Homo sapiens: one gene and its partners. The protein of the gene in region 2 interacts with the protein of the main gene of each other region in a pairwise test. Each region holds a gene or a part of one and is shown on either strand. Other genes may lie near its edges.

Evidence for each region.
Region 1: the proteins of GTSE1 (region 2) and RBM10 interact in a two-hybrid assay, tested with the Homo sapiens proteins (one large-scale study listed by BioGRID).
Region 3: the proteins of GTSE1 (region 2) and CPSF7 interact in a two-hybrid assay, tested with the Homo sapiens proteins (one large-scale study listed by BioGRID).

What each region holds. Positions count from the first base shown.
Region 1 is NC_000023.11:47,183,196-47,187,435, reverse strand, and holds the end of RBM10 (RNA-binding protein 10), read right to left. Parts: intron 2,382-4,240; coding exon 2,232-2,381; intron 2,135-2,231; coding exon 2,069-2,134; intron 1,995-2,068; coding exon 1,806-1,994; intron 1,721-1,805; coding exon 1,646-1,720; intron 1,372-1,645; coding exon 1,265-1,371; intron 1,179-1,264; coding exon 1,049-1,178; intron 963-1,048; coding exon 837-962; 3' UTR 623-836; downstream 1-622. UniProt on the Homo sapiens protein: Binds to ssRNA containing the consensus sequence 5'-AGGUAA-3'. May be involved in post-transcriptional processing, most probably in mRNA splicing. Binds to RNA homopolymers, with a preference for poly(G) and poly(U) and little for poly(A).
Region 2 is NC_000022.11:46,327,735-46,331,322, reverse strand, and holds the end of GTSE1 (G2 and S phase-expressed protein 1), read right to left. Parts: intron 2,636-3,588; coding exon 2,434-2,635; intron 1,966-2,433; coding exon 1,756-1,965; intron 1,277-1,755; coding exon 1,193-1,276; 3' UTR 513-1,192; downstream 1-512. UniProt on the Homo sapiens protein: May be involved in p53-induced cell cycle arrest in G2/M phase by interfering with microtubule rearrangements that are required to enter mitosis. Overexpression delays G2/M phase progression.
Region 3 is NC_000011.10:61,423,397-61,427,043, forward strand, and holds part of CPSF7 (cleavage and polyadenylation specificity factor subunit 7), read right to left. Parts: intron 1-3,647.

The DNA of each region.
Region 1 (4,240 bases), on a different chromosome or scaffold from region 2:
CTCTGCCGAGAGCACAAGCACATACTTGGGAATCATGGGTTGCAGTGACTAGAGGGGTGGGGCACTGTGGTAACAACAGAGAAGGTAGGCCTGAATGGTTCTCAAAGGGCATCCCTGGGACCTGGCCTTGGATTTGCAGGCCAAGCTCCACCTCCACCCCTCTGTCATCAGCCTGTTGAGGGCTCTGGGCCAACTGGAACCTGAGTACCTCTTGTATTCTACTTGGAGATGCCTGAGGGCATTGTCTCCAGATCTAGGGATGGCAAAATGCAGTTTAGCCTTGGGACTGCAGGCTAAGTAAAGCCAGGGGGCAGCAAGGACAGGGGATGGGGGTTCCCAGTCCTAGCTCTGATCAGGGGGCGCTTCATGCCTGGTGGTGCTAGATTTCCTGGTACAACATAACCTGCTGGAACCAACAAGGGAGAGGGGCCATAACCAGGATATTATGGGTCGGGGTACAGGTCAGAACCCCATGTTCTAGTAGCCATTATGTTCCAGACACTGAATGCCACCACTGCCATCCACCTTGGCCTGATAAGGTCCCCTGTCCATCTGCTTGGGTCCCCGTGTCTGTATAGGCTATACAACTGTGCTAGAGCACGAGAAAGAGGAGAGGCCAACATGCAGACTTTTCAGCTTTTATTACAAAACAGGACGTGATCCCAGCCCAATTTTCCAACAAAAGTCACCACCTCAATTTGATTTGGTCAAGCCCTCTCTGGCTGGGGAGTGGGCTGGCCGACAAGAGCAAGGCCCCGTCCCAGCCATCCAACACTCTGTCCTTCCCTGCCCCAGGATGGACACCCAACATGTGGAGAAGTTGCTCTTGAAGCTGCTCACTGGGCCTCGTTGAAGCGGGTCACCATTGTCTTGTGCAGTGTCTCCTTGTAGGACTCGGTTGAGGTGACCCCGTAGGAGCTGCCCCGTGCACCCAGGCCGGAGCCCCGCACCCGTGTTTGGGCCTGTGTGAGGGAGGCAGGCTCTGTCAGGCTGGTGGGGGATGCTGTGAGGGGTGCTGGGGGATGGGACAGGACTGCCTGAGACTCACCTCGATAGGCGTTACAATGCCCTGCTTCTTGCGGCCCAGGCCGCTGCCCTCTTTCCAGCCCATGGCCTGCAGCATCCGACTGCCAATGTTGTCACTGCCCAGCCCGTCCCGAGTAGGCTGCTCGAAGTCTCTGCAGGGGCGGTGCACAGCATGAGTGGTCGGCCTGCCGGCCCCGGCCCCGGGCTCCAGACCCCCTCACCTGGCCCAGCCACTCACACAGAGGCTGTGGATATGCCGCCGTACTTCCTCCTCTTGGGCTCTGGCGGCTCGGGGATGCCATACTTTTCTCTGCGTTCAGCTGCACGGTCCCGGTACTTCATTTGCTGAAAGTTTGTATGTGTATGTGAATGTTGGGGAGCTGGTCTCTTTTCTCAGGCAACACAGGCATGGGGAGTGGGGTCCCACAGGGCATGCCATCTGGCTAATGAGGCTCAGGTCCTGAGGGTCAGGCCATCACAGGCACAAGCAGCCAGGATAGGAAAATGGGGAAGAAGGCTCACGGGGTTAACACGTGAGAAATTGAACTCCAGCTGCCTGAGGTGATGGGGACTTGGAAGGGACACAGGGGAGGGAGCCCAGGGTCAGGTCACACCTCACCTCCATGTCATTCTTCTCTAGTGCTTCTAGCTCGTTTTCTGACAAGTGGGCTCGCCGGTGAATCTCAAGGTTTTGCTGCAAGAGGGACAGGATGAGAAGTGAAGAGGATGAGCCTCAGTGGGCCAGGCCCCAGCATGCCCTGCCAACCATCCGCTGTTACCTTGTGGAGCCCTGAGAGCTGCTGGTGCCGGATGAGCGCCTCTTTGCTGGGGAACTGGCGTCGGCAGAGCAGACAGGCCAGCTTCTGCCAGTCGGTGAGCTTCTCCTCCCGCTCAGGGCCCCCACGCTCCTGCTCCTCCTCACTGTCACTCTCCCCGCTGTAGGCTGCCACCAGTCCTCGCGGAGGGCTCTGTAGAGGGTGAGGGTGGGCGGTCAGGCCTGGCCAGATCAGAGCCCCCGCCCCTCTCTGCCTTGGGCACTCACTGGGCGGTCGTCACTGGCCAATTTCGGGAGATCCATGCTGGTGTGCTGTCTCTCGGCTAGTGCTCCCTGGGGTGGAGGGACACAGAAATTCAGGGACTCCACAGAGGGCCCAAAGGAAGGACAAGATTGTGGGGCAGGGTGCAGGGGGGTGGCCCCAACACACCTTCTTCTCGAGGATGGCATAGCCAGCATCTGCAGTGGCTGACTCCCGCCTCTCGTCATCTCGCAGGGAGCTGATAGGCTGGAAGCTATTTTTGAAGTTTTCTTTTTGTTTGTTGAGACTGCGGGCCCAGCGTTCCATGTCCTTGGCAATCTGGGGGTGAGGGTGGAGGTGAGGTTCCCAGAACCCTCATGACCCTGGGGCTACTAACTCTATCTGCTGACCCACTGCCCTGCATCCTCAAACACGGGCCAGCCACTATCCCTAGTCCGAACCACTGCAGAAGGCTTCATCTGGCCTCTGGGCTACGGCTCCTGACCACCTTTCCCAGCAGAGCGCTCTTTCATGAAGTATAAGCCACTCCCACCCCCAAATACAATGTCCTTAAAACCCTTCCTTCGCCTCCCATCACACCAAGAATAAACCCAAACTCGCAACCACAGCCTGCAAGGCACTTGGCACCTGGCTACTCCTGACCTCATCACTGAACACACCCTGTGCCCCCACCCCCACTGGTTTGCAATGGTGAGGTGGCAGAAGCAGTGTGGACAGAGTGGCGGGCCCATCTGGGAGGCAGATGAGTGGAAGCTGAGGCAGAACAATCAGAAGGTGAGGGACACAGTAGTGCAAGTTCCTATTTTCTGTCACCAGTCACCAGTGCTTCTTGCCAAGCCCCTCTCTGGCTGTGTTCTCTGCTATGTTTTTTGTCCCTCAAAGTTCATGTGTCAGAAATGTAATCCCTAATGCAACAGTGTTCACAGGTGGAGCCTTTATCCCGGCTGAGTGCAGTGGCTCACACCTGTAATCCCAGCACTTTGGGAGGCCAAGGCGGGTGGATCACTTGAGGTCAGGAGTTTGAGACCAGCCTGGCTAACACAGTGAAACCCCAGCTCTACTAAAAAAATACAAAATTAGCTGGGCGTGGTGGTGGATGCCTGTAATCCCAGCTACTTGGAAGGCTGAGGCAGGAGAATTCCTTGAACCCGGGAGGCGGAGGCTGCAGTGTGCTGAGATTGCACCATTGCACTCCAGCCCAGGCAACAAGAGTGAAACTCCATCTCAAAAGATAAATTTAATCCCTGATGCAACAGTGTTGACAGGCAGGGCCTTTCAGAGGTGATTAGGTCACAAAGGCTCTGCCCTCCTCAAGAGATCGCGGCTGCTTTTTAAAGAAATTGTATAAGTTTATGGGGTAACAAGTGCTTTTGTAGCCAGGCGCGGTAGCTCATGCCTATAATCCCAGCACTTTGGGAGGCCGAGACAGACACATCACCTGAGGTCAGGAGTTTGAGACCAGCCTGGCCAACATGGCGAAAACCCGTCTCTACTAAAATTACAAAAAAATTAGCTGGGCATGGTGGCGGATGCCTGTAATCCCAGCTACTCGGGAGGCTGAGGGAGGAGAATTGCTTGAACCCAGGAGGTGGAGGCTGCAGTGATCCGAGATTGCACCACTGCACTCCAGCCTGGATGATAAGAGCGAAACTCCATCTCAAAAAAATAATAAATAAATAAATAAAATAAACAAGTGCTTTTGTTACATGCACAGATTGTATAGTGCTGAAGTCAGGGTTCTTAGAGCATCCATCAGCCAAATAATGTACATCATACCCATTAAGTAATTTTTCATCCTTCACCCCCTCCCATCTCCTCCACCTTTATATATATATAATATATATATATTTTGAGAAGGAGTCTCGTTCTTGTTGCCCAGGCTGGAGTGCAATGGCACGATCTCAGCTCACTGCAACCTCCGCCTCCTGGGTTCAAGTGATTCTCCTGCCTCAGCTTCCTGAGTAGCCGGGATTACAGGCGCCTGCCACCACGCCTGGCTAATTTTTGTATTTTTAGTAGAGACGGGGTTTCGCCATGTTGGCCAGGCTGGTCTCAAACTCCTGACCTCAGGTGATCTGCCCACCCCAGCCTCCCAAACTGCTGGGATTACAGGCATGAGCCACGGCTCCCGGCCCCCCTCCACCTTTTGAGTCTCCATTTAATGCCATCACTGAGTG
Region 2 (3,588 bases):
AAGTTTCCTCAAGAGAAATGGACACAAAGTAGCGGCTTCCTGGAGCTCGTTTTCTAAATAAAGGGAATGGGCTTTCCAGTGGCACTCAGTTCCTGCCACTGCCCACTGAGCTTGTCGGGCCCCTGCTGAGAGCAAAGCTGAGGGGTCCTCCCCGAGGCCTGCCCAGCAGACGCCGTCCATCACCTTAGTGTCCAGGTAAGCCCGGCCTCCTCGCCCATCCTCTTTCCACTCATACCCTCGTCTCCCCAGAGCAGCTTCTTCTCAAGGGGTGTGTCTCAGGCCATCGAGTCAGCATCACCTGTGTGCCTAGTAACAATTACTAGGCTGGCCCCAGACCTAGAAACTAGTGTATCTGGGGGCGGGCCTGGGCCTGCACTGACATCAATTTTTATTGACTAATTTTTGAAAATCACTTGTATGAAAGCATTCGAGTCTAGATAGTAGCCTTACTGATTAGAGTGATAAAAATAGCTATGCATGTTTGAAAATCAAGATAAGCTTAAAAATCAAGATATGCTTCAATAAGTCCATTTATTTTACAATTTAATGTAAATCTAGAATATCTAACTATTTATACAAACTTAACTTTAAAAATAGCCACTTGCTATTTTACATACAAAACATTCAAAAGAAAATTCTTCATTTAGAGTGACTGAGGCTTCACATTCCAGCCCAGAGAATGGCAGCGAGGAGGGTGGCGGCGGGAAGCAGAGGCCTTGGGTGGTCCGTGCTGGCCCCAGTCCCTCAGCCCACCCTCTCCAGCACTGGGAATATATTTATGCTTATTTTTCTTTTTCAAATAAAACTTCTACTAAAACATGTTTCTTTTTTTTTTTTTCCAAGACAGGTTCTCACATTGGTGCCCAGGCTGGAGTGCAGTGGCACAATCACAGCCCACTGCAGCCTGCATCTCCTTGAGCTCAGGCCATCCTCCCACTTCAGCCTCCCAAGTAGCTGGGACTACAGGCATGCACTACCACACCCGGCTAATTTTTGTATTTTTTGTAGGGACAGGAGTTTCACTATATTTCCCAGGCTGGTCCCGAACTCCTGGGCTCAAGTAATCCGCCCACCTCAGCCTCCCAAGTTCTAGGGTTACAAGTGTAAGCCACTGCGACCAGCCTAAAGCTTGTTTCTGAGGGTTGAAAACCACTTTAGGGCTGTTCTTTCAAGGCAAAGGATTTGGTTCGGCTTAGAACTTGAGGAGTGGGGAATCCACGTTCTCCTTGTCAGCCTCAGGGCTCAGCTGGATCAGAGGGGAGCTCAGGTCTATGAGCTGGAAGAGAGCAGAGTGGAGGAGGTGAGCGTGGATCCGGCTAGGGCCTCCCTTCCCCTCCCTGCACAGAGGACTGGCTGCGTGGGTCATCACAGCCACTCGCTCATCCTGGCTCGGGTGCACTGAAAAGCACTCTGGGCCACCACGTCTAAGAAGCTGGAAGGAGACAGGACACACACGGAGAAGCCCAGGCCCCCACCATGCACATTCCTCTGTCCCACATCTGGCCCTGGGGTCTATGGGCAGGAGAGAGGCGGTCCCTGTCCAACAAGAGCTGGCAGGGTCCTGGCAGGGCACCTCAGAGGCAGCTGATCTTTGAGAAGCTCAGGCTGCCAAAGGTGCATCCTGCCCTGAGGTGTGTAGCTGAGAAGACTCAACAGCCACTCTCAAGGGTCCCACGATGGCCCTGGGAGGATGAACAATCCCAGAACTGAGGACACCCAGGGCTGAGTCAACATGAACCACCTGCCACTTCTCACCTGTCCCACCACCGGTGAAGGTTTGGCCACATTTTTATTCATGTCTGGAGTGTTTGTCATGAGGTCGATCAGAGGCCTGCTTTCAGATCCTACAGCCACGTGTGCTTCTGGGGTATCGCAGAAGTCGATGAGAGGAAGGTCAATGAGGGGCTGGCTTGCAGCATCTGGAGTGACCGCGAGTGGTTCCAGTTTGATATCTACAAGAAGAGCCTGGGTACAAAACCAAGGTTAAGAGCAGAGTCCAGCATCTTTCTGGCAACCATCTTGGGAGAATGTGAGCTTTGCTCATGTTCCAGGTGGGCTGGCGGTTTGGAAAGCCAAGGAATCAGGCGGGGCCTTGGTGGAAGGAGGCTCTGTATGGGGTGGGCCGTGCCTCTCTGACTGTTGCCCACCTCCCTGTCCATACCCGCTCACCAGCAGCCACCAGCTCCTGCCACCCTGCTTCCCGCTTCCTCAGCTTTGATCCCTGACCCTTGCCTTAGTCAAATGCAGGGCTTTCTCCCCTGGAGGCCTGGAAGTCCTGACTGCCTCCCTTTGGGTTGCTTGGCACGGAGGCACTGGCCCCAGGATGAAGCATGGCAGGGAACTCCGCCAGCCACAGCCCTGGGTTCCACGGGCTTCCCGAGCAGCCTCCAGGAATCTCAGCTAACAGAACCCAGCTGCGCCCGTTCTGCCCACCTCACTAGGGGCTGCATCTCCACCCGGCTTGGCTTCCTCCCGAGCTACTTCTGTGGCAGTACTTTTGGAGAAAGTAGAATCGCTTTCCTCTGGAGAAAAGTTAAGTGCCTGAGGCACACGGGAAGGAGGAGAACCCCTGTCAGGGGACACATCCACCAGCCTGGAATCTGTCTTTCTGTTGCTCTCCCTTGTTGGTTCAGTTCTGTGGGAAGGAAAAAAACTTATGAGAAAATGTCTCTAAAATGCTCGTTCACTTGGCTGATGTGGGAAGCAAGTCACTCTGGAGGAACAGTGTCCTGGGTGGAGTGCGTCCCGGCTCTAGGGCCTTCACCCTCCAGACCCCCAGTTTCCTGTGTATGGAAGGGGCTCAGTGATCTCTCCAGTTCCTCTCAGCTCACAAATCTTAGCTGTCCAGCATCACCAGGGGCTGATGTTAGCCCCTTCCTTTCTAGTTACTAAACACAAGGTAATGCGCACGCCCGTCACCTCCTGAAGGGAGCCCAGACCACACACAGGGACCCCTCCTTGAGCCACGGCCAGCTCCTCCTCGCATGCAGCTAGTGGGGGGCTTCTCCTAGGCCTAGGTGGGTATGCAGCTGGCTCCTTCTGCCCCAGATGCCCCCTCCCCTGCTGCCCAGTGCCCTGATCAGGGCTGAGGCCCCAGGTACAGGCTGCCCACACCAGCTTTCCAATGGCGTCTCCCACAGGACCCTGCACGGGCGCTGCTGGGCTTGCCTGCTGCCCACAGGTCCTCGAGTACCTGCCACGCAAAACTGAATTCCTTCCGGAAACCCAGCAAAGCCGCAGGTCCATCAACTAACACACAGTACCTTCTTTTTAATACTTCAGAGGTTTCATAAGAAAATTCCAAAAACAAGCAGAATTTTGTTTCTACATTTACACTTACAAACATACAAGATAGTTAAACACATATTCCTATTTATATATCAGATCTGGTGTTTTCAGTGAGGCCTTGTTTCTCATTTTCTCTTTGGCATTCCATGCCTTTCCCTCTCCCTCTGTAATGCACACACATGCCAGCATATTTTCTTCCAGAGTCTTCTGCATTATCATAGAACTACATAGATACACACAGTGTCAACACCTACTGTTGGTAGATGTACATACACAGAAACATATAAGATATATAAAAAT
Region 3 (3,647 bases), on a different chromosome or scaffold from region 2:
CCTTCATCTCGTGATCTGCCCACCTCGGCCTCCCAAAGTGCTAGGATTACAGGCGTGAGCCACCGTGCCTAGCCTCAGAGAAATCTTTTTAAGGATTAGACAAGCATTTTATTTTTATTACAAGAATTAGACAAAACATTCAAACAATGCTAAAGATAATGCTGCCAAAATGACAGAGACAGCAAGTAGTTCAGTGTTTTAAGGATGCTACGGCAGTTTCATATTGCTATTCTTTTAAAAAGGGAATAAAGGAGGCACCTAAGTTGGGAAACTTGTCTAGTACCCTGAAGAAACAGTTTCTCCAAGGCAACTAAAGACAGGCGGCTCCCTTAACTTTCTCCCTCCAATATCACGGCAATAACTGCTAATTCTGAAGTGATCTGAAGACGACTCACTAAAAAATTTACTCTTAGACCAGTCCTTGTATTATAAGAACCTTTGGAAACAATCTTTCAGTTTTTCAGTTTATCTGAAGTACAGTGGAAGAAAATGCACACTAAGAGAATAATCTTGGGTTGTTCTGATAGAGAAGGGGGAAGGATTCTACTTCCTAAAGCATATAAATAATTTCAAATATTAAAACACTCTAAGAAACCCACCAGGAGGGCTTAACCCTTGTAAAAACGTTAGAAAAAGAATATCAAGAGACAGTAAACTTTTAGGGGGCAACTTAACAACAAGAAATTAGTGAGGCAAATAAGCACAGGAAGCTTGTTCCATGTAGTCAAATCCATCAAAAAGGATTGTGCATAAAAAGGGTCAGCATGTAAAGAATGAGGAGAGAAGCTAACACTGGAGAGGACAGGGTGGATAATAAAGTAAGGTGAGGTCAGCTAGGGCTAATGAGTGGGAAAACATTTTGTGTGTAAGTAATCACTATAAAATATTTCATAGCTGTTACGTCTCAAACTATCCCAACTCTATAGACAAATCACTCTTCTATTCATGTACCAGGTATGGTGAGTTGCTCCTGTGGTTCAAGGTAGAGAAAGGATTTATATACATCACTTGATCCCATCCAATGCTCAAATCCTTAGAAAGCACTACTTCACACCAAGATTCTTCTTTTTTTCTGAGATAGAGTCTCACTTTGTCACCCAGGTTGAAGTGCAGTGGCGCAATCTTGGCTCACTGCAACCTCCGCCTCCTGGGTTCAAGTGATTCTCCTGCCTCAGCCTCCCGAGCAGCTGGAATTACAGGTGTGCACCACCACACCCAGCTAATTTTTGTATTTTTAGTAGAGATGGGGTTTCACCATGTTGGCCAGGCTGGTCTCTAACTCCGGACCTCAGGTGATCCTCCCACCTCAGCCTCTCAAAGTGCTGGGATTACAGGCGTAAGCCACTGCACCCAGCCTTCTTTTTTTTTAAATCAAGGATTTTCAAATGACACGTAAACAGAATAAGGAAACACATCATCTTGGATAATCGAATGGAACCAAACTGAGATTCCCTTCCATGCAGTATCTGTAATTCAGGTATATGTGTCTAAAATTTGTAATGTAAAAATGATCACTGAAAATTGAGTAGTGGACTAACATGCAGATTTGGACAGCTCAGAGACCAAATGCATCACCAGGAAACCCTTCGTACTATATGCTTAGGCAACCAATCCACTGTTTTAAGATCCCTTAAGAATAGGATAGACTAGATCCTGGAGAATCTTGGTATGGCTACCACTTTTAGAAACAAAAGGATTGAATGAATACAAAATTATCACAAGATTTAAATGGTCTCTCTGGGCCACAGAGCCTCAGTTCAAAGAAGCTGGTGGGAACTGCACAGGGCAGGTCTGTTGAGGGTTCTACTGAAGAAACAAGGTATCAAATTGTTTGGATTTTAATCCCCCAGCATCACAATTCATTTTACTTGTTCAGCTAGTAAGACAGAAACACAGTTAAGGGCCGGAGATTTTTCTCAGCGGATTTATGCAGTAATAGATTAAAGTAAAATCAAATTCTACAAATTAAGTGAAAAGTACATTTTACATGCACTGATGTTCAAAGTTTCATTCCAGGGAGATTAAACATGAAACATATATTTAATACTGAATAACTATCTCAAAGAATTTTGTGTTTAATGGCACAGAAAGAACTGTGACTGTCTCATGAAACTTCCTGCTTCCCTGTAAACAAAAGAGAACATGTGTGATTTTCAATTTAAATAAGATCTTCTCCACTTGTCTGCTCAGTGTTCCTAACCTCCACCCTCTTCTTCCTCATATCCCACTGAGGGAAGTAACTAGCCTAGGATTTATTTTTCTCAGAGCAACCAACTTGATACCATTGTTTCTTTTAATTGTAACCAAGGCTTAATCAAAAATTTTGGCTTTATAATGACCATTTCCACAGTTCCCACTTCACACCCTCCTTGTCCTTCACTGTACATTGTCGTTGTCCACCACCCCTACCCACCAGGAGTGGAATCTGTTTTGAGTACAGGGACCCACTTTTTTTTCCTTTTACCTCACTAGTCCTGGCACAGTGCTTAGCAAACACAAGTAGCTCAATAAATAAATACTTATTGATGGACATAAGGAAGAGAACTGGACACTGTGCAAAGCCTGTCTCAGTATGAAAAGCCAAAACTCCCAGCAGAGCAACTGATCTCAGTCACCTTTCCAGAGTTCTCCCTGGCCCAAGAGAGCCAATGTGAATCCCAGGACTCCCTGTGTTACAGGAATAAAGTAGCTCTGGCAAAAACAGGCTTTTGCAGCAAATGCTCTAAGAGATCAGGGAATAAGCACCATAGGGTTCCATCTAGGAAAAATATTAATTTTCCTTGAGGAGCAAAGTGCACATGAAGGGCTTCCTGTGCATGGGCCAGCTTGGGGCGAAATCAGTAACATTCTTAAAACATTCTAAAACACAATTTGTACTGGGTGCCTTCAGACTAAGCCAGCTTCTAACAATTCTAGCCAAAGTTTTTTTGTTTTTTTGTTTTTTAAATAATTTCTGTAGCTTCCAGATGACACTAACACTAACTTTGTCAAAAATAACTAATTGATATGTGTGTGGGGGGGAAGCACTCATCCCTCACCTTCCACAAAACATAAGATATTCAAAATTCACACTTTCTTCAGCTTGCCTAGTGTCAAATATTGCCCGTTGGATATATGTATCTATTAAAGTCCACATACTACCTTTAGCCTGTCTTAGACCCATAAAAAAGTCCTTTTTAACTGAGGAGACCAGAGAACAAACTATTGAGGCCAATAACTTATACTCTAACAAAGCAGTGACCACTGGACAATGAGTTCTGCGTATTTCTCAAAGTGAAATGAATGGCACTATTATCAATCCACAGATAAGAAATTAGAAGGGGAAAAGCTTTTCATTAATAACAAAGGTGGCTGGGTACGGCGGCTCACGCCTGTAATCCCAGCACTTTGGGAGGCCGAGGTGGGCAGATCACAAGGTCAAGAGATTGAGACCATCCTGGCCAACATGGTGAAACCCCGTCTCTACTAAAAATACAAAAATTAGCTGGGCATGGCGGTGCGCGCGCCTGTAGTCCCATCTACTCAGGAGGCTGAGGCAGGAGAATCATTTGAACCTGGGAAAAGGAGGTTGCAGCGAGCCAAGATGGTGCCACTGCTCTCCAGCCTGGCGACAAAGAGAGACTCTGTCTCAAAAAAAAAAAAAAAAA